4 linked regions of the Homo sapiens genome follow. The gene in region 3 interacts genetically with the main gene of each other region. Each region holds a gene or a part of one and is shown on either strand. Other genes may lie near its edges. The genes, in order: ATM, CHEK1, SMO and KIT.

The links.
Region 1: changes in SMO (region 3) and ATM together harm fitness more than expected from each alone (negative genetic interaction), as found in Homo sapiens cells (one large-scale study listed by BioGRID).
Region 2: changes in SMO (region 3) and CHEK1 together harm fitness more than expected from each alone (negative genetic interaction), as found in Homo sapiens cells (one large-scale study listed by BioGRID).
Region 4: changes in SMO (region 3) and KIT together harm fitness less than expected from each alone (positive genetic interaction), as found in Homo sapiens cells (one large-scale study listed by BioGRID).

What each region holds. Positions count from the first base shown.
Region 1 is NC_000011.10:108,250,514-108,254,066, reverse strand, and holds part of ATM (serine-protein kinase ATM), read right to left. Parts: intron 3,367-3,553; coding exon 2,995-3,366; intron 2,231-2,994; coding exon 2,036-2,230; intron 1,251-2,035; coding exon 1,155-1,250; intron 254-1,154; coding exon 28-253; intron 1-27.
Region 2 is NC_000011.10:125,629,659-125,637,978, reverse strand, and holds part of CHEK1 (serine/threonine-protein kinase Chk1), read right to left. Parts: intron 4,817-8,320; coding exon 4,628-4,816; intron 2,551-4,627; coding exon 2,446-2,550; intron 531-2,445; coding exon 435-530; intron 1-434. UniProt on the Homo sapiens protein: Serine/threonine-protein kinase which is required for checkpoint-mediated cell cycle arrest and activation of DNA repair in response to the presence of DNA damage or unreplicated DNA.
Region 3 is NC_000007.14:129,192,136-129,200,455, reverse strand, and holds part of SMO (protein smoothened precursor), read right to left. Parts: intron 1-8,320. UniProt on the Homo sapiens protein: G protein-coupled receptor which associates with the patched protein (PTCH) to transduce hedgehog protein signaling. Binding of sonic hedgehog (SHH) to its receptor patched prevents inhibition of smoothened (SMO) by patched.
Region 4 is NC_000004.12:54,733,239-54,741,558, reverse strand, and holds the end of KIT (mast/stem cell growth factor receptor Kit isoform 1 precursor), read right to left. Parts: intron 5,062-8,320; coding exon 4,950-5,061; intron 4,839-4,949; coding exon 4,739-4,838; intron 4,385-4,738; coding exon 4,279-4,384; intron 3,131-4,278; coding exon 3,002-3,130; 3' UTR 844-3,001; downstream 1-843. UniProt on the Homo sapiens protein: Tyrosine-protein kinase that acts as a cell-surface receptor for the cytokine KITLG/SCF and plays an essential role in the regulation of cell survival and proliferation, hematopoiesis, stem cell maintenance, gametogenesis, mast cell development, migration and function, and in melanogenesis.

The sequences.
Region 1 (3,553 bases), on a different chromosome or scaffold from region 3:
CTTAGTTCTTTTTTTAAAAAATCTCACCTCAGATGAGTAATTATTCAGAAGCTGTTCTGATAATCCCAGAAGACAGCGATCCAGTGATTCCTTGAGATTCTGGTGGACAGAGAAGCCAATACTGGACTGGTGCTTTTCTATACCACATTCTCTCACAATGGTTAAAAAGTCCATCTTGTCAAAAGTTGTCTGAAGAAATAGTTCTTCTACTTCTGAGAATGAAAGTTCTTCTTTATCTTTTTGGTGGTGTTCACTTCAAGAAAGTAAGATCTTTAATATATAAACCAAGTACCTAATGCTTTGCCTTATATGTATTAGCAATATATTACAAAGGAAAACATTAACCTAGTATCTACATCATTCAAAGACTACTTATATAATTAATAGATTATTCTTTTAAATGCTTCTCTTCTTCGGACTTTGAGACCTACTTATATCAAATGTCATTATTCAGTAGCAAATTTTACTAATAGATAGAGAAAAAATACAAGTTACAATCTCAAAGGCAAATTCAGAAAGTATTTTTAAAAACACCAGATATAAATGTTAAGCATAACATTGTCTGCAAACATATCCCTTTTTTCACCAAGCAGAGGAAGTAAAGAGCATAGGTTTAAAAACCTTTAACATCTGGTATAGGTAAGCAGTTACGCATCCTTTTGCCCTCTTGAGGGAGATAAGGAATGTTTGTGCCAGTGAGTCATTTTCAGTCACAGCAATACAATCTAAGTCTCTTGAGTCAATCAACTAAACTCAGGTTTAGATTTATTTTTGTTTTCAATTATCATTAGTTTTTAAAGCTAACAAATAGTCAAATCATAGTTGATGTACAGAAATGGGTAACATCTTTAAGAACTTATTTCATATAAATTTTATATTCTTAATTTCCCAGCATAACCATTCAGTTTTTCTCATTGGCACTTGTCACATATTATACTATACAGCATTAAAAAATAGTAAGCTTGGTCTAATGTTATATAACATAGATTACAATCACTGAATTAAAACAACCTCTTCCCTGGCTAACAGTTGCAATTTTTTTGGACCAATTTAGTTTACAATTATTAAGATGCAGCTACTACCCAGCTAAAATTATCATCTTTGTAATTAAAGCTATAGCTTAAAATGATAAAGAGCATTATTAGATAACATACCATTCTGGCACGCTTTGGAAAAAATTCATTGCAGCTTTACAGTTTTTCATAGTGAGACTCACAAGAATTTTCTCCAGTACAAGATGAGGAAAATTACTACAAAGAAAAACAAAAAGCTTCACTTAGAAGACCAAAAGCCATGTAAAGAATACTTTAAACTTTAACATCCATGTTTAGCTATAAATCTTGACTTCTAAAATTTGGATCCTAGATTAAAATTGCTTTCATCTATACTAAATTTCTTAATATCTAAAAGGACAATTTAAGGAGGACAACCATTGTTATTATCATTTCCAATACTGTTTAGAAACAGCATGTTTAACATTATTTCTGAAATAAATAAAAGGTTGTAAAATTAAAGCAAAAGTACTTTAATTGGATCCATTCGGAGGTCTGCTCTCCAATCATTTGGTTCCAATTACCAATCTGTGGAAAGGTTAAGTGGACGAGGGACTCCATTCCTTTATCCTAGTGCTTACATCCTGTTTTGTCTTCCTCGTTTCCTCACCTCATTCATAAAACATCTTTTACCCAAAAGACACTCCCATTATGAGAAAGGATCCAGGATCTACATGACTCAAATATATGGACTTACTTATTTAAAAAATCAGAAAGGAACACATAAATGCTCAAAGAATTATATGTGCATTTTTCATGCACATCCCCCATATTCTCACAGTGAGACAACCCTTTATTTCAGAAGCAATCAGGCATAAAGACACAGATAACTGTAAAAACAAACATAATATTTAATAATTAAGGTTAGATCTGGGAAATTCTGCATTATTATTATAAAATAAAGCCATCTGGCATCAAATAAGTGGAGAGAGCCTGATAAAACAAACAAAAAAAACAGCAGCATGCTAATGAACTTAAATTACCTGTGAAGAATTGGAGGCACTTCTGTGCTATTTTCTAAGTCACCCTCTAACTGATAGAATAAGAGCCATTTCATTATTGATTCCTTTAAAGAAAAGCTTCTATTTACTTCACACATATTTTGCTCTATTCCCATTTTTACCGTTCCTGGAACTATACTGGTGGTCAGTGCCAAAGTCAAACAGCATACTGCAGGACTATAACAAAACAAAGGACAATTGTGAAAAGCAAGCTATTGGAGGGGCAAAGACTTTATCTATCAGGACAGTGCCTGGCACATACATTTAGTTAAGGTGACTAAATGAACATAAAAACTGTTAAAAGTCTGATTACATTTGGGAAGATTCTTGATTAAAAAATAGCTCGTTTATTAACAGTGCATAGTACTACAATTTAAACATGGCTATTTAATAAATAATGATAAATTGCACATAAAAGAAATTTAAACTCTTCATAATTCTTTAAAGAAAGTCTTTTGGATACACGTATACAATTAGAAGGAATAAGACCTGGTGTCCGATACATCAGTAGGGTGACTACGGTTAACATTAATCTATTGTACATTTCCAAACAGCAAGAAGAGAATAATTCAAACGTTCCTAGCATGAAGAAAAGATACGTAGGGTGCTGATATCCCATCACCCTACATGAGTGTGTCATATGAGTGTGTCAAATTATCACATGTACCTTGATAATATATAACTCTATTATAGATCAATTAAAAATTTTTTAACTAAAAAAGAAATTCCTTAACATTAGTCTTTAATAATTTGTCAACATTTGAAACTAAATTCACTTATGCATTTATTAAGTCTTCTCGGCCAAACAAGAAAAGCATCTGAAATAGAATTTGACATCTTTAACTGAAGTAACAAACTATGAAAATGATCAGGGATATGTGAGTGTGTGTGTGTCTGTGTGTGTTTATCTGTAAGTCAGACATAATGCATGCTGAACTTACCATGAAGGTCTGCAGGCTGACCCAGTAAATAACTTCCAGAATTCTCTGTCAACCTCAACTAAACTACCCTGAATTATGGCTCCAAGTAAGCCAAAGTTTTCAGCTTGTATTTGCTCAGAACTTATACCACGAAAGGTAATACACCAAATTTTATTCCAGAGTTTTAATAAATCTGACTTTTGTGAGCTTTCTAGGTTTGACCTCTTGTCTTGACACAATGCAACTTCCGTAAGGCATCGTAACACATATGGTGTACGTTCCCCATGTCGCTGTTGGGGTAGAAGCTGAGATAGTATCATCAGTAATGGAGACAGCTCACAGTTAGGTAAACTTGCAGGATACTTTGATATTAATTGGGTTGCAATCTGTAGCCTAAAAAAAAAAAAAAAGGATAATTTGAAAACTATTCCATCACATTAACAAACTAAAAGGAAATATATAGACATGGTACTCTTACAATATCCTAATTAGAGAATCACCATCATTTCCATAGTACTCTAAAAATAAACTGGCTGTTAATAGTTACTATGTCCTACTTCCTAAATTGGCAGGAAAATTG
Region 2 (8,320 bases), on a different chromosome or scaffold from region 3:
CTGATGATACAATGATGAACACAACAGACACGGCTTGTGCCATACTGATCTTTCAAGTTTCTCAAAAGCATCAGACTTTCTAAAATCTAAGATTTTTCAAATACTGCTTCCCCTGTTCAGAATCAAATCTGCCACTTACTTTGCCTGCCTAGCTTCCCTTTAATCTTCAAATCTTAGATTTAATGTAATTTCTTCAGGAAGAAAAGTCTTCCCTGTCCCTTAGACTTGGTCAAACACTTAGCTATAGTACCCTGACTTTCCCCTTTATAATTATTAATAAACAAAATTATTTCTGTATTTTTTTCTACTGGACATTATAATCTCCATGAGGACAGAGATCATAGCTATCATGTGTTGTTGACTTGTGATAATAACTTTGCAATTACCTTTTCTTCCACAGAAAAACAAACAAACTTGTAGTTTAAGGATATTACCTTTCTTGAGGGGTTTGTTGTACCATCTATCTTTTTTGATGTCTGGAATGGTAATTCTTGCTGATGGATTCTCAACTAAGATTTTATGCAGCAGAGCTAAAAACAAACATTACGACAACATTCACGAAAGAATCATGTTAGAGAAGCCTATGGCTTGAGGTAAGAAACACATTTTCTGTTAGCCTACTTATGTCTAAATATTATTCCTGGGGAAGAGAAAGAATTAAAGCTACTAAATTACTGCTTTAATTTCATGCAGTTTTTCTCTGCTGCTGTATCTTGGAGTAGTCTTCCCTGATCTGATTCTCAATTGTTTGCAACTGAGAACAAGAGCCAGATGGAAATGTTTCTCCTCATGTGACGAGATTAACAAAAAGATACAGAAACCCCTCTTATCCATTTTCAATACCGAATTTCATTACTTCAATGTCATGTTCTCACGTGACCTCCTTATTCACACAGTTTTATAATGAACATTTACTTACCAATAACTTTTTAAGAGACAGTAATCTAACTAACCATCCTAAGGTATCTTAATTTTCTTGAGAAAAAATTCACGTATCTTCCTATGTGAAGATTATTTCCTAATGGACCAAAGATTTAAATGGAAAAATGAAGCCATAAAAACACTAAATGAAAACATAGGGAACTTTTAAATAGTAGAGGTAGAAGACCTTTCCAAAGAAATTATAGTCAGGGACCACAAAGGACAAGATAATAGATTTGAATGTCAATATAGCAAAACAAAATGAAAATAAATGATAAATTGTGAAAAGTATTTGTAACAAGTGCAAAGGTCAATGTGTTATCAAGGAAAAAAAAAAGCTTCAAAGTGGTAAGAAAAACAATATCCTTGACAAAAATGAGCAAAATAGACAAAAAACTAATACATACATAAAGGGTATACAACTTCATTAGTATTAAATTTAAAATAAAAATGAAAAACTATTATTTAAAGTTTTTTTCCTTAATGTAAATTGATGAGACTGTGATGAAATGGTTCGAACTTTCGGGAAGCAATTTGACAAAATAAGCCATAATAATAAAAACTACATCCTTGATCCTGCAATTTTGCTTCTGGGGATTTCAATGAACAATTTAAGGGTATGTGTCATGATTAAGTTACACAGATACTTATATCTCTTTTGTATCTGTGAAAATTTAGAAAAATCTCCAACAAAGTGATTAAAAGAGTAAAGTAAGGCATATCCACATGGCAGAATATTATCACAGCCTTTAAACCAACGATGTAGACCTACAATTATAGTCATGGAAGAATGTTCGCTGCGCACTAAAACCAAAAACAGTTACAAAATATTATTAGTGTGATCTCATTTTGTATAAAAACACATATAAATAATATACATATATTCATTTTACATACTTATGGGCCACATTAATGATGTTTCAGTCAGGAATGGACCACACGTATAACAGACAGTCCCATTAGATTATAATACTGTATTTTTACTATACTTTTTCTATACTTAGATACACAAATACCATTATGTTACAATTCCTTACAGTGCTCAGTATAGTAACATGCTGTACAGGTTTGCAGCCTGAGATCAATAGGGTATACCAAATAGCCTAGATTTATAGTAAGCTATACTATCTAGATTTATGTAAATATACTCTATGATGTTCACACAATGATGAAACCACCTAATGAAACATTTGTTAGAGTGCATCCCTATAATTAAGCAACAAACGAGTGTATTTGCAACAAAGTATAGCACATATGAAAACTTTAAGTAAAAAGCCATCTAAGAGCAGATTCAAGTTGCTCTGAATATACACTCCCCAAAATATTTTTAAAAATCTATTGCAGAGTTCTGGGACTAAAGAGTTATTTTTTCCTTAATTTTTTACTTATAGTTACTATTTTATCTACAACGAACATGAATTATTTGTAAGTTTAAAACAAAAAAAAAAGTAAGAAAAAATTCAAATAGCACAAGACTTCATATCCAAGAAATCGGTACTCTTTCACTCAAGATAATTCAGTTACCTAGAGGAGCAGAATCGATTTTTTTCCAAGGGTTGAGGTATGTTTTTTTTTCTTTCCAGTCAGAATACTCCTGACAGCTGTCACTGGGTTGGTCCCATGGCAATTCTAAAAACAAAGCAAGTCCCAGTTTTTTTAAATGTTCTTATTATAAAGATTTCAAGGAAAAATAATAATATAAATCCATGAAAAGTTTCCTTTGAATTAATTCAATATGGTTTTCACACTAAGAATCCCAACTTGGAAACTTTAGAGGCACTTCAAAGATAGATGAATCAGGATAGGCATGGCAGCTCAGGCCTGTAATCACAGCACTTTGGGAGGCTGAGGCAGAAGGACTGCTTGAGCCCAGGAGTTCAAGACCAGCCTGGGCAACATAGTGAGACCCCATCTCTACAAAAAATAAATAAAATTAGCTGGGCGTGATGGTGTGCATCTGTAGTCCTGGCTCCTCAGGAGGCTAAAGTGAGAGGATCACTTGAACCCAAGAGGTCAAGACTGCAGTGAGCCAAGATCACACTGCTGCACTGCAGCCTGGGCGACAGAGCAAGACTTTGTCTCAAAAAAAAAAAAACCAAAAAACAGATGAATCATTTCTTGCCCTAGTCTTGTTTTCACAAATGTTTACATGATACACAGGAGAGATAAGTGTTGTGATATTTAATAACTATGCATGCCTTAGCTTAAAAAATCTTTGGGATTATAAATAAGTTACTATTTGCAATGTGCTAAATATTTGTATCCCCCTCAAAAGTCATGTTGATATCCTAACTCATAATGCAATGGCATTCGGAGGTGGGGCCTTTGAGACGTAATTAGGTCCTGGTGATGGGACCACTCAAAAAATGGTATTAGTGCTCTTATTAAGAGCTTATTAATGTCTAATAAGGGCTTGTGTGCCCGGACAATATTGTATCTTTATAGGGCACTAATTATATAATCCCAGCACTTTGGGAGGCTTAGGTAGGCAGATTACTTGAGCCCAGGAGTTTAAGACCAGCCTACGTAACATGGAGAGACCGTCTGTGAAAAAAAACCCACAACAAATTAGCCAGGTGTGGTGGTGCACGCCTGTAGACCCAGATACTGAGGAGACTGAGGCAGGAGGATCGCTTGAGCCTGGGAGCTCAAGGCTGCAGTGAGCCTTGAATTGTGCCACTGCACTCCAGCCTGGGCAATAGAGTGAGACCCTGTCTCAAAAAAAACCACAAAAAAACAAAAAACAGACACAATATCTCACAACATCTGGTCATTTAACAAAAAACCCAAAAAACAGCACTTTGGGAGGCTGAGGTTGGGGGATCACTTGAGGTCAGGAGTTTGAGACCAGTCTGGCCAACATGGTGAAACCCTGTCTCTACTCAAAATACAAAAATTAGCCGGGTGTGATGATGCATGCCTGTAATCCCAGCTACTTGGGAGCCTGGGACAGAATTGCTAGAACCTGGGAGGCAGAGGTTGCAGTGAGCTGAGATCACATCACTGTACTCCAGCGTGGGTGACAGAGCAAGACTCTGGTCTAAAAAAAAAAAAAAAAACCACAATAGAGCTTGCTTCTGCTCTCTTGGCTGTCCACCATGAGAGAGCACAGCAAGACAGCCATCTGCAAATCAGGAAGAGGGCCCTCACTAAAACATGACCAGGTTGGCACCCCTAATCTCATATTTTCAGCCTCCAGAACTGTGAGAAATAAATTTGCTGTTTATAAGCTATGCAGTCTATGATACTTTGTTACAGCAGTTACCAAACCGATCAAGACACTATTAAAATACTACTATAAAAGCTGGGTACCATGGCTCATGTCTTTACTTTAATCCTAACAGTTTGGAGACCAAGACAGAAGGCTTGCTTGAGACCAGGTGTTTAAGACCAGCCTGGACAACACAGCAAGATCCCATCTCTACAATGAATTTTTAAAACTTAGCCAGATGTCTTGTGGCAGGCACCACTGGTCCTAGCTACTTGGAAGAGTGAGGCCAGAGGATTGCTTGAGCCTAGAAGTTTGAGGCTGCAGTGAGCTATAACAGCTCACTGTACTCCAGTCTGGCCAAGAGTGAGACCCTGTCTCTTAAAAAAGAAAACAAAAACTATTATATAAACATGAATTCCTTGGTTTATTTCATTTATTTCAGTATAACTAATCTGACTTTTTATAGGAGTTTTACCATGATTAAATAGCTCTTACCTCCAGCGAGCATTGCAGTAAGTACTATTCCACAGGACCAAACATCAACTGGTTCTGCATGAAATTCTCTTCTCTTCAGAAGTTCTGGAGCAACATATGGTAAAGTACCACACATCTTGTTCAACAAACGCTCACGATTATTATACCGAAATACTGTTGCCAAGCCAAAGTCTGAGATTTTGAGGTTATCTAAACCAAAAGAAAAAAAGATGACACTGAATAAAAATGTTTTGCAAATAGATATACTTACAGGAATTAAGTTTTACTGAAAAAAAATCACTGGTGTTACTTAAGGTTTGTAGAACTTCTCTTAAAATAAGCAAAATAGACAAAAAGAAATTTAAAAAAATAAAATAAATCATCATCTATGCTAAAAGTAGAAAAAGGCCTCACCTCTTCTATTAACTTAAAAGAAGTATTATCAACACACAGAACAGTCTGGACCAGATTAAAGAAAGAGGCTGGAGTCAGAAGGGGCTGCCCTTCTGGAAAAGAGCACTCTAAACCTGAGATGAAAGTAAAGCAAGGCCCCTCATCAGGTAGGGTGGAGGGCAGGAAGGAAACATCAGTAGTATGTTAGGCACAACTTTCTCAGCAGCAAACAAACCCAGTTGGCAGAAGAAAATATGTGAAGACACACCAAAATTCAACAAACCACAGTAATTTTTTTCTTCAAAGTAGAGAGTCTGAGAAAAAGAGGACAAACTCTGTACAAAAAAAAAATATCAGAAGACCCAACTTCCACCCTAACTTCCCATCTTCAACACACAAAAACTGCAGGCAGGACTTAACTTATGTTTAGTGAATATCTACTGTAACTTAGTGACAGACACTATGCCAGCCAATGCAGGTAATAGATAAATTAGTGAAGACTGACAATAGAAAACTGTTATGAAGGTTATAAAAATATAGAGCACTATAGGATCTTAGAGCAAAGGAATGTAACCCAGTCTTAAGAGTTAGAAAAGGCCCTCTATTATCAGAGGGCAATTTGGCAAAACATACTAAACTGTGAAACATTCACTCTTTGAACTAGCAATTCCCACTTCTATATCCATAGAAATAATCCCACAAATTCATAAACATAAGAATATTCATAGCAATATTATTTGTAAATAAATGTCCAAATTTGTACAATGGAAAATGTGGAGGTAGGTTTTGAAAACAATCAACAAGGTATATCTATACATACTAACATGAAATAGTGTGTAAGTGGGACAAAAAGGCTAATGGCATAAAAAATATTATAGCATAAAAAATATTATAGCATGACGCAATTTTTATATTGGCCTTTTACACAAATTGATAGAAGCCATCACTGTCCTATTTTATAAGTTAGAAACAACTTAAATGTCTCAAAATAGGGGACTGATTTCTTTAAAAATCAAGTACATTCACACAATATGTAAACCAATGAAATGTTTACCTCTATCTGACTTAGGAGGTAGCTACTGTGATTACCCTTTTTTTTTTTTTTTTTTTTTTTTTTTGAGAAAGTGTCTCACTCTGCTGCCCAGACTAGAGTGTAGTGATGTGATCACAGCTTACTGCAGCCTTGACCTCCTAGGCTGAAGTGATCAATCCTCCTGCTTCAGCCTTCCAAGTAGCTGGGACTCCAGGTGTGCACCACCATGTCTAGCTAATTTTTTTTTTTAATTTTTCATAAAGACAGGGTCTATGTTGTCTAGGCTGGTCTCAAACTCCTAGAATCACTCAATCGTCCCACCTCAGCCTCTGGGATTACAGGCATGAGCTACTGCACCCAGTTGATTATCTTTTCAGTAGTTAAATATGACACTATTGGACAAACCACTGAGATTGAGTTTCAAATTACTTATGAGTAGTAATCACTTAAAATACTAATGGATAACTATAGTATTCCTTGGACTTTGTTATGTCTGCAACATAATACTCAGCTATGTTAGAGAACTGCACATAATAAAATTTAAATGTAGGAATGTGTTTAGCTCTTAGAAAAACAAAGGAAGAATATATTTGTGATGAAATAAACAGGAGGACATTAAATACTGGTAACATTTTATTTCTTTTTTTAAAAGACTCCTAAATATTAAATAGAAACAAAGAATTATATCTTGTATATTAATACAAGATATAAAGAATAACAATGTAATAAACACCCACTCACTTTAGAAAAACAATGCTCTATTTCCTTTGAAATCTTTAAATACTTCCTTAAATACATTCCCTCCCCTACTTTCTTAGACCATTCTGAATTTGGTTTTATTATACCCTTGCTTTTCTGCATGTTTTTTTCTCCATGTTTACATACTTGAACAATATACTAGGTTTTACATATTTTTGAACTTTGTATAAACAGAATCAGACCATATGAATTCTTTTGCAACTGTCTCTTTTTGCTCTACATCATTATATACCTGAAATTCATCCATGTCACTGCTTGTGACATGCTTGTGTCACTGCTTGTGACATGGCTTGAAAAGCCATGCATTTCATAATTTATTGTTGACAGACATTTGGGTTAGTTTCCTGCTATATTAAAAACATCACCACTGTGAGCATTCTTATATACGAATAATGTTGTATTTTTAAACCAGGTGGGTTGATATACATATATTTACATTTCATTATAATACATAAGAATTTTTGTGTACCTGAATTTTTAAAGTTTTAAATAAAAATAAAGATTTTTATGTCATATAAACTCAGTTTAAAGGGGTAAAAAGTAAAATCCATATGCACATAAGAAAAAAGCATGTATAGGCTGGGTACAGCGGCTCACACCTATAATCCCAGCACTCTGGGAGGCCAAGGGAGGCAGATCACTTGAGGCCAGGAGCTCGAGACCAGCCTGGCCAATATGACAAAACCCCATCTCTACTAAAAATATAAAAATGAGCCAGGTGTGGTGACTCAGGCTTGTAATCCCAGCTACTCAGGGGCCTAAGGCACAAGAATCACCTGAACCAGAGAGGTAGAGGTTACAGTGAGCCGAGATCATGTCACTACACTCCAGCCTGGGCAACACAGCAAGACTCTGTTTCAAAAAAAAAAAAAAGCTGACCATTTGTTAAGCACTATTCTAATACTAAGAATAAAGCATTAAACCAGACAAAAACTACTGCCTCATACAGCTGACATTTCTTTTTTGATTCTGACCCTGTAAGCTTAAAGCTTTCGCTATCCATCCTTCTCAATTTGATGACATTCAGAAAATATAACTAAATTTCTTACATTTTTATCCACGTCATACATAAAAAAAGAGTGAACAGGACAAGACTAAGGTCCAGGGTATTCCACAGGAACTTCCCTTTATTAATCCATTAAAGGATTATTTTAAACTATTCTTGGCCAGGCATGGTGGCTCACGTCTATAATCCCAACACTCTGGGAGGCTAAGGCTGGTAAACTGCTTGAGTCCAGGAGTTCAAGACTAGCCTGAGCAACACAGGAAGACTCCACCTCTTCAAAAAATCAAAAATTAGCCAGGCATGGTGGCACCTGCCTGTGGTTGGTCCTAGCTACTCGGGAAGCTGAGATGGTAGGATTGCTTGAGCCTAGGAGGTCAAGGCTGCAGTGAACTGTGATAATACAGTGCACCCCAGACTGGACAACACAGTGAGCCTGTATCAAAAAAAAAAAAATTATTCTTATACATATAGTGAGCTAGGCTTGCACCTAGGTCAGATTTCTCTACCTGATCCGCACTTGTAT
Region 3 (8,320 bases):
TTTAGAAGAAAAGATGGGAAATGATTTTTTTTTTTGAGATGGAGTCTTGCTCTGTCGCCCAGGCTGGAGTGCAGTAATGTGATCTCGGCTCACTGCGAGCTCCGCCTCCTGGGTTCACGCCATTCTCCTGCCTCAGCCTCCCGAGTAGCTGGGATTACAGGCGCCCGCCACCACACCCGGCTAATTTTTTTTTTGTATTTTTAGTAGAGACGGGGGTTCACCGTGTTAGCCAGGATGGTCTCGATCTCCTGACCTCGTGATCCACCCGCCTCGGTCTCCCAAAGTGGGATTACGGCGTGAGCCACCACGCCTGGCCAGGAAATGATTTTTTAAACCTTGGAGTGGAGAAGGCCTTCTGAAATGACACAAAGCCTACACATCATGAAATAAAAGATTTAAACAAAAGACTTCAGAAAAATCGATACAAAAATCATAAGAAAAGTAAGATACTGAAAAAATGTATTTTCAATACTTATCACAAGAGCTAATTTCCTTATATGCACAAAGCTCCTCCAAATCAGTAAAAATTGCATAATTCTATAGACACACAGGCGAAAGACAAATAACAGATCACATTTTCAAATGTTTTGATCTTTATCACTGTGATAAAAAGTATAAAAGTTTAAAAAAAGAATATTTCGTTGTAGTTTATTCCACATTTGTATTATTAAGAGTGAGGTCGAACATCTCTTTATGTTTTTTTTATTTTTTTATTTTTTGAGATAGGGTCTCACACTGTTGCCCAGGCTGGAGTACAGTGGCATAATCACGGCTCACTGCAGCCTTCAGCTCCCCAGGTTCAGTTAATCCTCCCACCTCAACCTCCTGAGTAGCAAAGACTACAGGCTCACACCACCACACCTGGTGAATTTTTGTATTTTTCTGTAGAGACAAGGTTTCACCATGTTGCTCAGGCTGGTCTTGAACTCCTGGACTCAAGGCCATTTAATGGCCTTTAAAAACATAAAGAAGGCTGAGCATGGTGGTGGCTCACGCCTGTAATCCCAACAGTTTGGGAGGCCGAGGCAGGTGGACCACCTGAGGTCAGGAGTTCTACACAAGCCTGGCCAACATGGTGAAAACCCGTCTCTACTAAAAAACTACAAACATTAGCTAGGTGTGGTGGTGGGCGCCTGTAATCCCAGCTTCTTGGGAGGCTGAGGCAGGAGAATTGCTTGAATCCAGGAGGCGGATGTTGCAGTGAGCCGAGATCGCCATTGCACTCCAGTCTGGGTGACAGAACAAAACTCTATCTCAAAAAAAAAAAAAAAAAGAAAAGAAAATACCGTACTATAAAGAGTGTAGGGATAAACTGGCACTTTTATATTTGTTGGTAGGAATAAAAATTAGTAAACACTTGTGGAGATCACTTTGGCATTATCTACCAAAATTTTATACTAGTACTTCTACTTCACATGTTCACAAAGATAATATAGATTATTCATTGCAGCACTGTTTTGCAATAGCAAAAAAGTAGAAACAGCTTGAATCCATATCCATCAATAGGAGACCAACCAAGTAAAATAATGTACACCATTATAATAGAACACTATTCAGGGTTGAGATATAGTCACATGTTGCTTAACAATGAGGATATCTTCTGTGAAATGTGTCATCAGGCAATGTCATCTTTGTGTGAACATCAGAGTGTACTTACACAAACCTGGATGGTATAGCCTACTGCACACCTAGCTGATACAGTATAACCTATGGCTTCTAGGCTGCAAACCTGTACAGCATGTTGCTATACTGAATACTGCAGGCAACTGTAACACAACGGTGAGTATCAGTGTATCTAAACATATCTAAACATTGAAAGGCTACAGTAAAAATGTGGTATTATAATCTTAAGGGAACACCATCACATGTGGTCCATTGTTAACCAAAATCTCCTTCTGGGGTGCATGACAGGATGTGCATTGAAATGGAATGATGTCCAATGTTGTCATGTTACATGGACTCAGTTGAGTGGAGAGCAGTCTATAGAGCATGGTACTGGTTGGGCGGTAGAGGAGAGACTGAGAGCACATCTACATCTGGACAGATGTTGGATATTTCCAAAAGGACACAAAAACCAGTGTTGGTGGTTACTTCTGCAGAGGAAAAATGGGTAGCTAGATGCAGAAGTAGGACTTAACTTGTTCCTTTTGAATTCTGTGCCATGTACATGTATAACCTATTTTTTAAAAGTAATTAAGCTTAAGGCTGGACATGGTGGCTCACGCCTATAATCCTAGCATTTTGGGAGGCCCAAGGTGGGTGGATCACTTAAGTTCAGGAGTTCGAGACCAACCTGGGCAATATGGCCAAACCCCATCTCTACAAAAAAACAAAAACAAAAACAAAAACAAAACTTGAGCTTAAAAACAAAATAAAGAAATACACAAATTACTAGGATGGGGAAGCTTTCCAAAGAGAAAAGAAGGATATGAAACTGAAACGAGAAAGAGAGGGGATATCAGCTTTATCAGTATTATTTTACTTCTTTTATTTTAATAAAATATGAAACAAAAAGAGAAACAGGAATACGGGTGTTACCGCGCCTGGCTGATCTAGACTTTTAAAAAGACTTTTTATTTGTGTGATTCTGATGACTAGTCAAGTTGAGTATCACTGTTCTAAGGCTGGTTTAATATTAGAAAATTCAATCAATGCAATTTACTACATTAACAGGTTAAAGGAGAAAAAAATCATATGATCATCTCAATGGATGCAAAAAAAAGTTGATAAAATTCAGCCGGGCGCAGTGGCTCACACCTGTAATCCTAGCACTTTGGGAGGCTGAGGCGGGCGGATCACACGGTCAGGAAATTGACCTGGCTAACACGGTGAAACCCCGTCTCTACTAAAAATACAAAAAATTAGCCGGGCGTGGTGGCATGCGCCTGTAGTCCCAGATACTTGGGAGGCTGAGGCAGGAGAATCGCTTGAACCCAGGAGGCAGAGGTTGCAGTGAGCTGAGATCGCATCACTGCACTCCAGCCTCGGTGACAGTGACACTTCGTCTCCAAAAAAAAAAGTTGATAAAATTCAACATCCATCTATGATCAAAAGAATAATTGGCAAATTTGAAATAAGAGACAACGTTCTTAATCTGATAAAATGTAATTAACTATAAAAAACCTATACCAAACATCAAATTTAATGGTGAAGGGTAGAAAAAGCTTTCTTTTTAGAATCCAGAAAAGTCAAGAATTAAGATGTTTTGTCTATTTAACAATGTACTGGAAGCCTTCAGTAAAGCAATAAGGATAAATAAAAGGTATAAGACTTGGAAAGAAAGAAACAAAACTCATTACTCACAAATTATATGACTATGTGTATAGAATAAATTTAGCAAGTTTACTGAATTCACAATCAATTTTATTTCTATATATCAGCAACAAAGTGAAATAAATGTTAAAGGCATCAATTTTATTTCTTTTTTTTTTTTTTTTTTGAGACGGTGTCTCACTGTATTGCCCAGGCTGGAGTGCAGTGGCACAATCTGGGCTCATTGCAAGCTCCGCCTCCCAGGTTCACGCCATTCTCCTGCCTCAGCCTCCTGAGTAGCTGGGACTACAGGCGCCCGCCACCATGCCCGACTAACTTTTTGTATTTTTAGTAGAGATGGAGTTTCACCATGTTAGCCAGGACGGTCTCAATCTCCTGACCTCGTGATCCCCCTGCCTTGGCCTCCCGAAGTGCTGGGATTACAGGTGTGAGCCACCGTGCCCAGCCAGTTTTATTTCTATATGTCAGCAACAAACAAAGTGAAATAAATGTTAAAGGCATCATTTACAACAGCATCAAAAATATCAAGTACCTAGGAATGTCTAACAAATAATAAGTATTTAAATCTGTGCAGAATATTGAGAAAATGAAAGATCTAAATAGAAATATATAAATGTTCAATGTTTGGAAGACTCAGTATTGTAAAGATGTCTCTTTTTTTTTCCAAGTTAATCTATATAGTCAATGCAATCCCAATAAAAAATCACCAAGTATTTTTATATTAAAACACAAAGGAGCATTTTGGGAGGCCAAGGCAGGAGGATCACTTGAGCCCAGGAGTTCAAGACCAGCCGGGACAATAGGGTCAAACCCTGTCTCTATTAAAACACACACACACACACACACACACACACAATCAAGAATAGCTCAGACTCTCTACTAGATAGTGATATTCTGTAAGTAACATTCTTACCCTATGGTTCACAAAGGATTCTTGGAAAAATTCAGAGGTCCATGAATTTCAATGGGAAAAAAATTACACCTAACTAAAATTTGGCCCTTCCTCCAATTATGAATGTAAGCAACACATCGCAGTACATAATTTTTTTTTGTTTTTTTTTTCTTTTCTTTTTTTTTTTTTTGAGAGGGAGTCTCACTCTGTCACCCAGGCTGGAGTGCAGTGGCACGATCTCGGCTCACTGCAAGCTCCGCCTCCTGGGTTCACACCATTTTCCTGCCTCAGCCTCCCGAGTAGCTGGGACTACAGGCGCCCACCACCGCGCCCGGCTAATTTTTTGTATTTTTAGTAGAGATGGGGTTTCACCGTGTTAGCCAGGATGGTCTCGACTTCCTGACCTCGTGATCTGCCCACCTTGACCTCCCAAAGTGCTGGGATTACAGGTGTGAGCCACCACGCCTGGCCCACAGTACATAATGTTAATAGTACCTGTGGCGTTGTCACAAGTGGAAACCAGATATTTTTGTTGCAGATATCTTGAAATAATGTCAATGCTTATAATCACTTTGATATTATAGTTGTTATTACACCTGCACCAGATCTTATTTATTGTATAAATAAATAAGCCCACATACTTGCATTTTTATATTTGATAACTATTATGTCAATATAATTGATTTCCTTTGTAATCCTATAAACTCATATCTAGCATATATAAAGAACTCCTACAAATCTTACAAAAATGACAGATAGCCCCTATGGAAAAATATGTCAAAGATTTGAACAGACACTTCCCAAAAGCAGAAACCCTAAAGGCCAGTAAGCATTTAAAAAGGCATTTAACTTTACTAGTAATCAGGGAAGTGCAAATTAAAACCACAAATATATGCCACAATATAGCCACTAGATTGGCAAAAATGTAAAAGGCTGATAATACCAAATGTTGGGAATCATGTGAACCAGTGTTGACTTTCTACTAGCTAGTGGGAGTATAAGTTAGTACAACCACTTTGAAAAATGGTTTGGCAAAAGCCTAAAGTATGCGTGCCTTATTATCTAGCAATTCTACTTCTTCAGCATATACCTGAAGGAACTTGTGCCAGTTGTACTAGGATATACATAAAAGACTACTCACAGCAATGTTATTTGCAATGGGCAAAAACTTGAGATGACAATAAAATGGGTAAACAACTGGGGGTATACTCATATAATGGAATATTATTCAGCAATGAAGAAATAAGCTGCAGTATGAGGCGGGTGGCTCACCTGAAGTCAGGAGTTTGAGGCCAGCCTGACCAACATGGCAAAACCCTGTCTCTACTAAAAAATACAAAAATTAGCCAGGCCTGGTGGCGTGCACCTATGGTCCCAGCTACCTGGGAGGCGGAGGCAGGAGAATCGTTTGAACCCAGGAGGTGGAGGTGTAGTGAGCCGAGATCGCGCCACTGCACTCTAGCCTAGGTGACAGAGTGAGACTGTCTCAAAAAAACAAAAACAAACAAATAAACAAGCAAAAAAGAAATAAGCTGCAATAACATGGATGAATCTTACATAATGATATAAAGTAAAAGAAGCAAGAAATAATATGCACAGCATATTATTTTGTACAAATTCCATTTGAACAGAGTTCAAAAACATGCAAAGCTGAAATATACTGCTTATGGATTCCAAAACTAGGAGGTAAAACCATAGAGAAAAAAAGGATGTGATTACTGAAAACCTCTTGAGCAAGGGGAGGGGGATGTGACTAGACAAGACACAGAGGGAGCTTCAGGGGTCTGACTGTGGTCTAGTTATTGACCCAGATGTCACTTTATAATTATTTGTTATTCAGTACCTTTGTGTTTTATGCAGTTTTCTGCATACAGTTATATTTCACAATTAAAAAGTTAAAGATCTGAAGCAAAATTGAAGACTTGAGCTGGCACAGAACACATGCCTGTAGTGCCAGCTATTCCAGGCACCATAAGCACCATGCGCACAATGAGTGAGCCTCTGAATAGCCACTGCACTCCAGCCTGGGCAACACAGCAAGACCCCATTTCTCAAATAATTAATTAAAGATAATTTTTTTTTAAAAAAGACTTAGGTCCATGTATGTTTTTCTGTATTTTACATTTTCACTATACATATATGTGTGTGTGTGTATACATACACACATATCTATATGTATGTATGTATTTTTGAGACAGGGTCTTGCTCTGTTGCCCAGTCTGGAGGGCAGTGGTGTGAGGATGGCTCACTGCAGCCTCAACCTCTTGGGTTCAAGCGATCCTTTTGCCTCAGCCTCCAGTGTAGCTGGGACCACAGGTGTGTGCCAACATGCCCGGCTAATTTTTTTTTTTAGAGATGGGGTCTCACTTTGTTGCCCAGGCTGGTCTCGAACTCCTGGCTTCAAGAAATCCTCCTGCCTCAACCTCCCAAAGTGCTAAGATTACAGGTGTGAGCCACTGCACCCAGCCTATACATATATATATATATATATATATATATATATATTTTTTTTTTTTTTTTTTTTTTTTTTTTGAGATGGAGTCTCGGTCTGTCGCCCAGGCTGGAGTGCAGTGGCGTGATCTCGGCTTACTGCAAGCTCTGCCTCCCGGGTTCCCGCCATTCTCCTGCCTCAGCCTCCCAAGCAGCTGGGACTACAGGCACCCGCCACCATGCCCAACTAATTTTTTTGTATTTTTAGTAGAGACGGGGTTTCACCCTGTTTGCCGGGATGGTCTCGATCTCCTGACCTCGTGATCCGCCCACCTCGGCCTCCCAAAGTGCTGGGATTGCAGGCGTGAGCCACCGCGCCCGGCCATATATATCTTTTTAACTGACTCTGATTACCAGCCAAGTTTGGAAATAGCTCTAAGGAAATTCTTCCTGATCCGTCCCTGAAAATAACCCACCATCACCAAAAACATTCCTCCTCTCAGCCCTCAATTCAATGTGTGAGAGGCAAACAAGAAATTCCTCCCAGCCTTTGTCTCTCTCCTACTTACCTGCAAGTGGGCAAGGTGACAGGGCCACACACTTATGTACCACACAGAGCACAGCAGTGGTTAAGGAGGCTACGTGCTGGCTCTCAGGGACCTATCGCCACTGCCAGCTGCAGGCCTCTCTGCTTTTTTGCCCCACTTACTAAACCAGGTTTGGCCTAAGGTGGACCACGGCCTGGACATTATGTTTGTCTGGTCAGCTTGGAATGCCCGGGAGGAGGCATTTCCAGCTGTAAAGGGGAGAGATGCTAAGTGACTGAAGAAGCCTGAGGCCAGAGAGATGAAAGACAGAGGAAAGACCTGAGGTCTATACAGACCTAGAAATTGGACCAACCTGAGCTATAAACTTCCTCAGTCAATGGCATCCTTCCAAAGCCTCAGTAGTCAGGGCCAAGGAAGCACACAGTGGCCACCTCTCTCCAGCAATTCCTATTTCCAGATCTGCTGAGAATCTCCACATAGATGTCCAATGAGCATCTCTAATTCACACGGCCAAAATCAAAGCCACACCTCCTGCCTAAACTTCTTCTTCCTCTAGCATTCTCTATCTTAGTGAAAGGGAATGGCACCACCTTCCATCCAAGCCTGAAACCCGAGGCCTCCTGCTCACTGAGGCTCCACATCTAACTCATCAGTGCCCTATGAGCACTACCTCTGAAAGTTAGTGGGATCTGCCCACTCCCTCTGTCCTGCTACCCAGTCCCAACCGCCATCGTCTCTTACTTGGGCTACTTCAACATCCCCTGGTCAAGAAGCCAGGCTCCAGGCTTTCCCTGCTCCTATGGCTTCTTCACACCATACCCAAAGAGATCCAGCTAAAATGCAAAGACAATTACATCTCTCCCTTGCTTAAAATCTTTCAATGGCTCCTTATCATCCCCTGGATAACATCCAAACTTAATATGAGGTATAAATCCCTTTATTTTCTAATTCTTTAGGTCTTATCTCTCACAATTCCACCCCTCACACGCTTTGATCCAGTTCTACTGCAACTCTTATACTTTCTTTCAAAGCACCAAGCCCTCCTACCTCTACACCTTTGTACATGCTATTTCCTCTTCCTATCCCTTCAAACCTCAACTCTCCCTCGGCCAGGCAATTCCTGCTTATGTGTCAAGTTATGGGTTAAATGCCAGTTCTTCTGGGATGTTCCTTGGGT
Region 4 (8,320 bases), on a different chromosome or scaffold from region 3:
GGGGTGGCACTGAGATTCGAACCAAGTTTGAGCCTGGGCACCAAGACCTGGTATTCCTTTCCAATGAAAAGCTAGGCTGGTGAGGAAAATTAGCTAGACTCTTAACACAGGGGACTGTCAACTGCTTCTAACGCAAATTTCTCACACATGACAAAGGCTAAATGACAGTGAAAACATTTGGAAAGAAAAGACTTCTTTGTTTTGTGGTCAATTAGCATTCATTCCTGTCTGCAATAAAATAATGGGAATTGCCTGACTGAAATGTGGGTCTGTTTTTCACTGATTATTGACGCATTCCTTGCCACACAATTCCCTCTGGATTTTAAAAGGATTCCTTTTCATTACAGGTCACTTTTCACCCCTTCCCTTTCCTTTCAGGAGACATTTCTGCAGGTGTAGATGTCACGTCAATAAAGACAGTCATGACTGAGGGTGTGTGGGTGCCTCATTCTTAATAAGATTATGTGATTCAGGGTGCTTCCTTTTGTTTCAAGCTGAAGAACTCTCAGCCTCTGTTTGGGTTCCAGTGGTCTGGACGGTACCAATTGGGCATGCATAATGTTTCACCCACATGACAGCACCCAGCTCATACATACTAAGCACCTTCTCTGTATCTATTTTTCAATTTAAATAGAGACCTCAGGTTGTAAGACTAAAATGAGAAAATATCACACGTATGAAAATTCTTAATATCTGTTGAATCTCGAAGCATGTAAATCCTAGCGTGATCTGATAGCCCTGCACATATTTTATGAAAACTGCGTACAAAACTTTGTCAGGATGATTGCACTTTAATGCTTTAAAGTTTAATCTCAACGAATCTCAACAATCAAATGACTCCACTTGATTTATATATGTACATTTTATTAGAATTCTTCAGAACTGTCAACAATTGGACAACATACAGGAATAAAACACGTGGAACACCAACATCCTTTAAACTTACGCCGCTTATGTATTTACACATAAAGTTACTGTATATATAAAAAATATTTTCAAGGACTCATGGGCTTGGGAATATTCAAAAGACATTATTGCTACATTTCAATATTTACAAAAAAAGCCACAAAATAATTTCAAACATTAAGCCACTGCAAAGAAACATCTGATGTAAGAAAAAATTATAAAAATATAAACTTTCAAGAATATCCAAGACAAAACTCTCAATGAAGTGCCCCTGAAGTACCTAGACATCTATAACTAACAACCACTTTTCTTACTATCATTGAAGTCAATAGAAACACAAAGGAATTTTTCAGACAAAGTATGGCAAACAACAATCTCTTGGGTGACAACACAACCCCAAAATCTGTTAACTTTGGAAAGGTGCGAGAGCATAGAACTCCAGTGCAAATGGTTACTTCCAGATAACGGCCACAGTTCTCTAAATGTAGTCTAAGAAATGTAGAAGGGGGAAACCATAAAGGCAACATACCTGAATCTTTCAAGACAACACACAAACTCTGCCATGTACACATTTGCCTTTTATATTGGGCAGTGAGGAAGGGGAGTTTTTTGTTTTGTTTTGTTTTGTTTTTAAAGAGGTAAACTACAAGAATAATATCCAGGCTACAGTCTAAAGGGTAAAATTTAAATGTTTCAGTGAGACAGTAGCATTATGGAAGGTCTAAGGAACAGGTACAGTAAGATGAGTCTAAATAACAGAGTGCCTTAAGTGCAGGTGAACTGCAAATACATAGGGACTGATGCCTTCCACTTCCTCTGCACCACTATGGAAGCTTCTGGTAAGCTACTCTAGACAGCTATGTGAAAAGAAACAAGAGCAGTACTAATAATGAAAGCCAAGTTACTTTTCAGGTACTAAAGGACCCTCTTGGACTCAGGGCAAAAATACCCCTCCAAATATTTGTCTACACACATACAAACGTACATACACATATATAGATACTGGCCCGGTGTCCAGGACATGCCTGCGAAGGAGGCTAAACCTATACTTTATTTCCTGCTACATAAGAATCCAAACTAAGATGGCAGTGTTTTCCCACTCCTGTGGGAGCCATGCAGTGAATCAGTAACTTTGTCAAACAGCATCAAATCCATTGAGTACAATGCCATTCTGAAGCTGATAGGCTTGTTCCACAGAATCTACAGAATAAGTTCATCAGCTAAAAGAGGAGATTTTGTTCAAACTGTGCTTTGTGGTTATATTGTTTCCTTAAAAAATGGTATTAACTGTTTCCTTCAAACTTATATGGCTCTTAATCTACTTCTATACACAGTGGACATAATGCCAGGGTTGTATACAGAAACGAAACCTTATGGTGTTTTCCCCTCAAATGTATGAACACGGACAATTTATAGATGCGTATATACAAGTGCTGGCTAGGGAGGCCTTCTCTCCAATTCAATGCTCTAATAGCAAACTCTATTTAAAAACCAGGTCGGTAGTATAAAAGCTCATGCAGTGGTCCACAGAAGAGCATCTTTTGTTCACACTTGGGGATCATTTTTTTCATGGCCTATGTCTCATTCCCAGCATGAAATACTAGATTTCTTAAGCCCAGGTGTTCATACTCTGTCCTTTGTTCTAATGATGTTCTGTTTTCCACATAAAGGACTTAGGTTTTCAGCTTCTAATCTTGTATCATCATACTACTATGGATGGTTCTGAAGGCCAACTGTGATTACTACCATTTATTCAGGTAAACTATCAACCATATTTTTGGGCAGAATTGGAGAAGCCTTGGAAAGGACTCTGGCCCCCAGTCCATACCTCCCTCTCTTTTTCCAAATCAGAATGTTTTCTGTTCATGGTAGAAGCTACGTTGCTATTGGGAATATATACAGTTGGAACCTTTGCAATAGGATGGTGGCTGATGACAAAAATCATCGGCCACTAAAGTGTGCTCAGAAAGACAGGATTGCAGTGGGGTGCCCACTATCCTGGAGTTGGATGCAAGTTGAAAGAAAAGAAAATAACCATCATGGAAGCCAAAAGAAGAGATCATTCCTGGAGGGGTGACCCAAACACTGATTCTGCTCAGACATCGTCGTGCACAAGCAGAGGCTGGGAGGAGGAAGCGGTGCTGCCGACAGAATTGATCCGCACAGAATGGTCTACCACGGGCTTCTGTCGGTTGGGGCTGCAGTTTGCTAAGTTGGAGTAAATCTGGAGAAAACAAGCCCATAGTCAATACAGCAGTCCCTACAACGAACATAGCAACAAAAGGCATACTTACAGTGTCAAGATCACAACTAACTGATGGAAACTCTTAAGAGAGAAGTGGTTTCCAAGAACTTTGTGGCCAAAACCCAAGTCATACTGACAAAACAAATATAAGCTTTGTTTTCCCCCTTCATTTTTCCAAGGAAATAACTTTATACAAGAAGTGGGGACAAAACATGCACAAGCTTAGCTCTTCTAAAAGGGCACACCAGGCACCAAGCACTATCTTACCTATTTAAAAGGCTTGTAAATCTCTCCAGCAACTACAACCCAATAACCAATGTAATTTGCTGGGAAACCCACGGCCCTTCCAGGGGTCTCTTGTCAAGAATCAAAGCAACTGGGTGGAAAATGCTGTTCAATTTGAAACATGTTTTGACACCCAGAAGAACAAGCTTTAACCCAAAAATTATCAGTGGTGTGCTATTAGGAAAGAAAAGATAGCTCCAAGCACACAGCCCAGGAAAGAAAGCAGCTTAAAAAAATCTGAGTCAAAGTATCACTAATTCTTGCTTAAAAAGAGAGGAAATAATGGATTTGAGTTTTCATTCCCCCACACTTCCCAAATCACTGGGAGGGATCTCCCAACTTCAAACAGCTCTTCATTCTATATGGCTTGTGGGCATGACAGCTATCTGCCATTTTCTGGCTATGCTTGTTTGATCAGAAGGCTTATTTCACTGCAGTAACAAGCTGTCTTTTCTATGCTTTTATTCTAGTTCACATCACCCCAACCCTCCAAAGGATGCATGGCCCTGACATGTGAGAGGGAGAAAATACTGACCCCGTGACCAGCATTTGAGATGAGGGAGGAAACATGGCAAATCCTTATGGAAACTTCTACTTCCAGTGAGTACAAAACTCTCCACCCTTCCCCCTCAATCTCACATCCTTCTTTGGCTCAGAACAGGAGGGCTGGGCAGAAAGAACTAGTTTCCATTGCTTTACTTCCCCTACCTGAAGCCCAATTTGCAACCTAAGATTAGGAGAGAAGGGGTTGGGAGGTTAGTCCTCACCCTGAAAGCCTGAGGAGGAGGACACACCTGGAACTGGGAGAAGGGGGATTCTATGCCTGGCCAGGGTATACTCACATGATTGGTGCTCTCTGAAATCTGCTTCTCAATTAGCTGAACAATTTGCTTGAATGTTGGTCTTTTTAGGGGATCTGCATCCCAGCAAGTCTTCATTATGTCATACCTGCAAGACAAGGGCCATTTACTATCCCTCCTCAATGCCCTCAGCTTGTTTTCAAATGTATGGGCATCCAGCAACTTCAGTAATAATTCCAGGGCTATGCAACTGGACATATGGACTGACATATAGATAACATAAAACACTGCATGTATGAAATATTACTGAAACTTTCTGTATTTTTGGTGACAAGAGATTATGAAAATAAACTACAGAAATGACATTTGACCAGTGTGTCATAAAGAATCCAAGTGACATTTCAAACTGTGTTATGAAAACCCTCAACATCTGGGTTTCTGTCTCTAAAAAGAAAAATAAAAGGGAAAACGTGACCTAAAGGAAAAATTTTTTGGCTCTTACATTTCAGCAGGTGCGTGTTCAGGGCTGAGCATCCGGAAGCCTTCCTTGATCATCTTGTAGAACTTAGAATCGACCGGCATTCCAGGATAGGGGCTGCTTCCTGAGACACAGTTTGCAAAGCAGTGTTAATCACAAGGAAGCAGGACACCAATGAAACTTCAAGAAGATGCTCTGAGTCTAATGAAGTTGTCTTTGGCAAGGATCATTTTACCTAAAGAGAACAGCTCCCAAAGAAAAATCCCATAGGACCAGACGTCACTTTCAAACGTGTATACACAGTTGAAAATGCTTTCAGGTGCCATCCACTTCACAGGTAGTCGAGCCTGTAATAGAAGCACAACAGAGTCAATAATGTTAATTCAGAAGCTCAACAAAATTGAACAGAAGATATTCTTATAGATGCTGCTGTTGCTGAAATGTGGAGTGATAACTTGAGTACCATCTCACAAAAACCTTTTACCTATATGAACTCAGATGATCCCAATCACCTCTGAAATACATGGCTCACAAGTGCATTATCCCCATTTTAAGATGTGAGCACTATGTCAGTACGGCATGGAGATTAAGAGCACAAACGTCAGAGACAGCCAGACATTTTAGCCCTGGCTCCACCATGGGCCTTAGGTAATGCAGAGATTTGTTAGTTTCCACTGAATATGTCCCTCTCCTTCCTTAAAAACAGAAACACGGCCTCTCACAATTAGGACTACATTTCCCAGCCTCCTTTGCAGCTAGCTAGCTGTAGTTAGGTGACTCGGTTTTGGCCACTAAGTTGTAAGTGCTGTATAGCAGCTTCAGGAAAACCTCCTTACAATATAGCTGGCACGTGCCCTCTGCCCTCTCTTCTCTAGTGCAAGGGCCCCCTGCCTTCTGGATATGATGGCTGGCTATCCACCTGGTGGTCATCTTGGACCATGGACATGGGGGTTACACTCAGGAATGGCTAAGCATGGAAAGGAAAGACTTGCCCGGGTACTCCATGGAACCTTTATACCAATCCTGGTATAAAGTCTACTCCTAGACTTCTTTTATTTTGGGTTTTCTGTCAAAACCCAAAACTTTCTCTAATACACTGGGAAAGTCACTAAAATATTTGTAATTAAGCCTCAGTATCTTCTTCTGTAAAACAAAATGAATACTTTTAATTTTATGAATTGTCTTGTGGGTTAAATAAGATAAAATGGGTAAAAATGCTTAGCACCGCCTGACTCAGTGCTATCTGAAAAATTGCCTAGAAGAAAGGCAAGTACTTGATAAACAGTAGTGGCTTGTGATCCTGACTCTTTGGAGAACTCTCTCCATTAAAGTTGAGCTAAACTTTCTGTAACTAGTCCTTTTAGATGCATTCTGGATTCCCAATCTTAATCTGCCATAAAAAGCTAAATCAATCCTTCTCTTAATCCATTTAGGATTGAAAACTGGGAAAGCTTTTTTTTTTTTTCTTTTTTTTTTTTGGTGTTAAAGTTATTTTAGTCAGCTTACAAAAACAAAACAAAAAACTTCCAATATCCCTTCCCTTCCTAGATGTTGTGCTAAAGTTCCTATAAGGGCTCCTAACCTGAGATCTATGGGTGTCAAATTCAGGGGCCTGTGAACTTGGAAAGGAAAAATGACATCCTTATTTTCGCTAATTTCTAGATGAAATTTAGCATTTCTTTAAATTACTAACAAAGGTGATAAAACGCAGTAGTATCAGCTGTACCTGTGACTTTGTCATGAACAGTAATCATAAATATCTTCATATCCTATTAAGTCTTTATAGGTATCTCAAAATCATATTTACATTAATCACCACTCTAAAATTACAGTGGTTTTTAGAAAAAATAGCAAAACCCACAATTACTTTTACACCAACCTAACAGAGCCTGTTACACTCTATAGTAAACACATGTACTGACATATCACAAATTTACTTAGTATCTTCATAGCTATTTCGATTTAACTGTTTTCCTTGGTATTCCTATGTATTTCATCATAGGCGTTGAAAACAGTGTTCTGATAAGGGTCCCATAGGCTTTACCAGGCTCTAAAAGGGGCCATGACATGAAAAACAATGAAGAACTCATGTGAAAGGAAAGAACTTCAGAGAACCTGACACAACAAGGAGATCTCAAATGATGATGACAAAAATGTGGGGCGGTAACATATATGAGTTTCCTTCTTCTTATCTTGTTCCAGAAATTCTCCTTACCCACTAGCCTGGTGAAAGCGAGATCTGTGATTGGTTAGTTCAACTGACTTGAACTGGAGTCTACAATCTGGAAGCCTGATAGAGCCAACCCCTCTTTGTCATTTCAAACTAAGGTCACTAACCAATAACAAGACAGTATGTAACCACCGTCACGATTATTTAGATCGTAAATAAGACATCTATAAAGAATAGTAACAATATGTCTGGCACTGTCATAAGCACTTTACATATATTAACTCATAACTTTCTGAGTCAGGAATCACTATTATTCCCAAGGGGAGAAAAACAAAGATTCAGAGGTATTGGACAACTCTTGACAAAATTACACAGGCATGAAATAATGGAGACAGATTGCAGAATTCATCAAGACTGGGCCTGGAGGCGGCCACCTTCTTCCTCCTCCCTTTGGTCAATATTCAGAGGACTGGATAATTAACGACTTATCATTCTTCCTTCCAAAATTGCACCAGGATGAAGAGAAGTTGTTTTTATTATCACTCCTGATGATAATATCTAGCTTCAGGGCAGCCTTTTCAGAAATTCATGCTTTGGCCAGGAGATAAACACAGAAACACTCTTACAAAACCAAATCGAGTACAGGCTACCAATAGAGACGCCACAGTGATGGGGGGAAAACATTACATTATCATAAGGGGCACAAAAATCCACCTCCAGGAATAAATCTGGACTGCAGAAATGGGCCCAGGAAGACAGGCAGAGAATATTATAAAGGGCAATATGGTTTTCCATGGCGATGGGATGCCACTCTGGAAATCACAGGCTCTAGTTTCAGCCTCTATTGTCCTGTGTCACCTCAGATAAAAAGCACTAAAATATGCCATGCCTTAGTTTCTCCAACTTTTAAAATAGGAAGGTGCTGCAATTATAGGACAAGGGTTTGTTCTGAGGATTCAATAAAAATTGGCAAGGAAATACAGCACTTTGAAAAACATTTGCTATGTTCTACAAACCCATTATTACTTATGAACCTATTTAATAGCTCTCCGTGTATTCTAGGATCCAACATTCTATATGGCTAACTCTGAATATGATCTTAGATTTTAATATTTTTCACACGGCATGCCAATCCCCCCAAAATTTCTCCTGCTGTGACCTTCAATGACCTACATTTGTTACACTTGAGCAAAATCAAGTTCATTGCTATTCTCAGGCTATAATGAAAATTAAGGCTATTTCTGTTTCCTTCACATGCCCCAAAATTACACAATTAGAATTAGGACTTCTATTATTGAATGTTAGTTGTAGTAATGTTCAGCATACCATGCAAATTTTGCTGAAGTATACTTAATTTGACTGCTAAAATGTGTGATATCCCTAGACAGGATTTACATTATGAAAATCACAGGAAACAATTTTTATCGAAAGTTGAA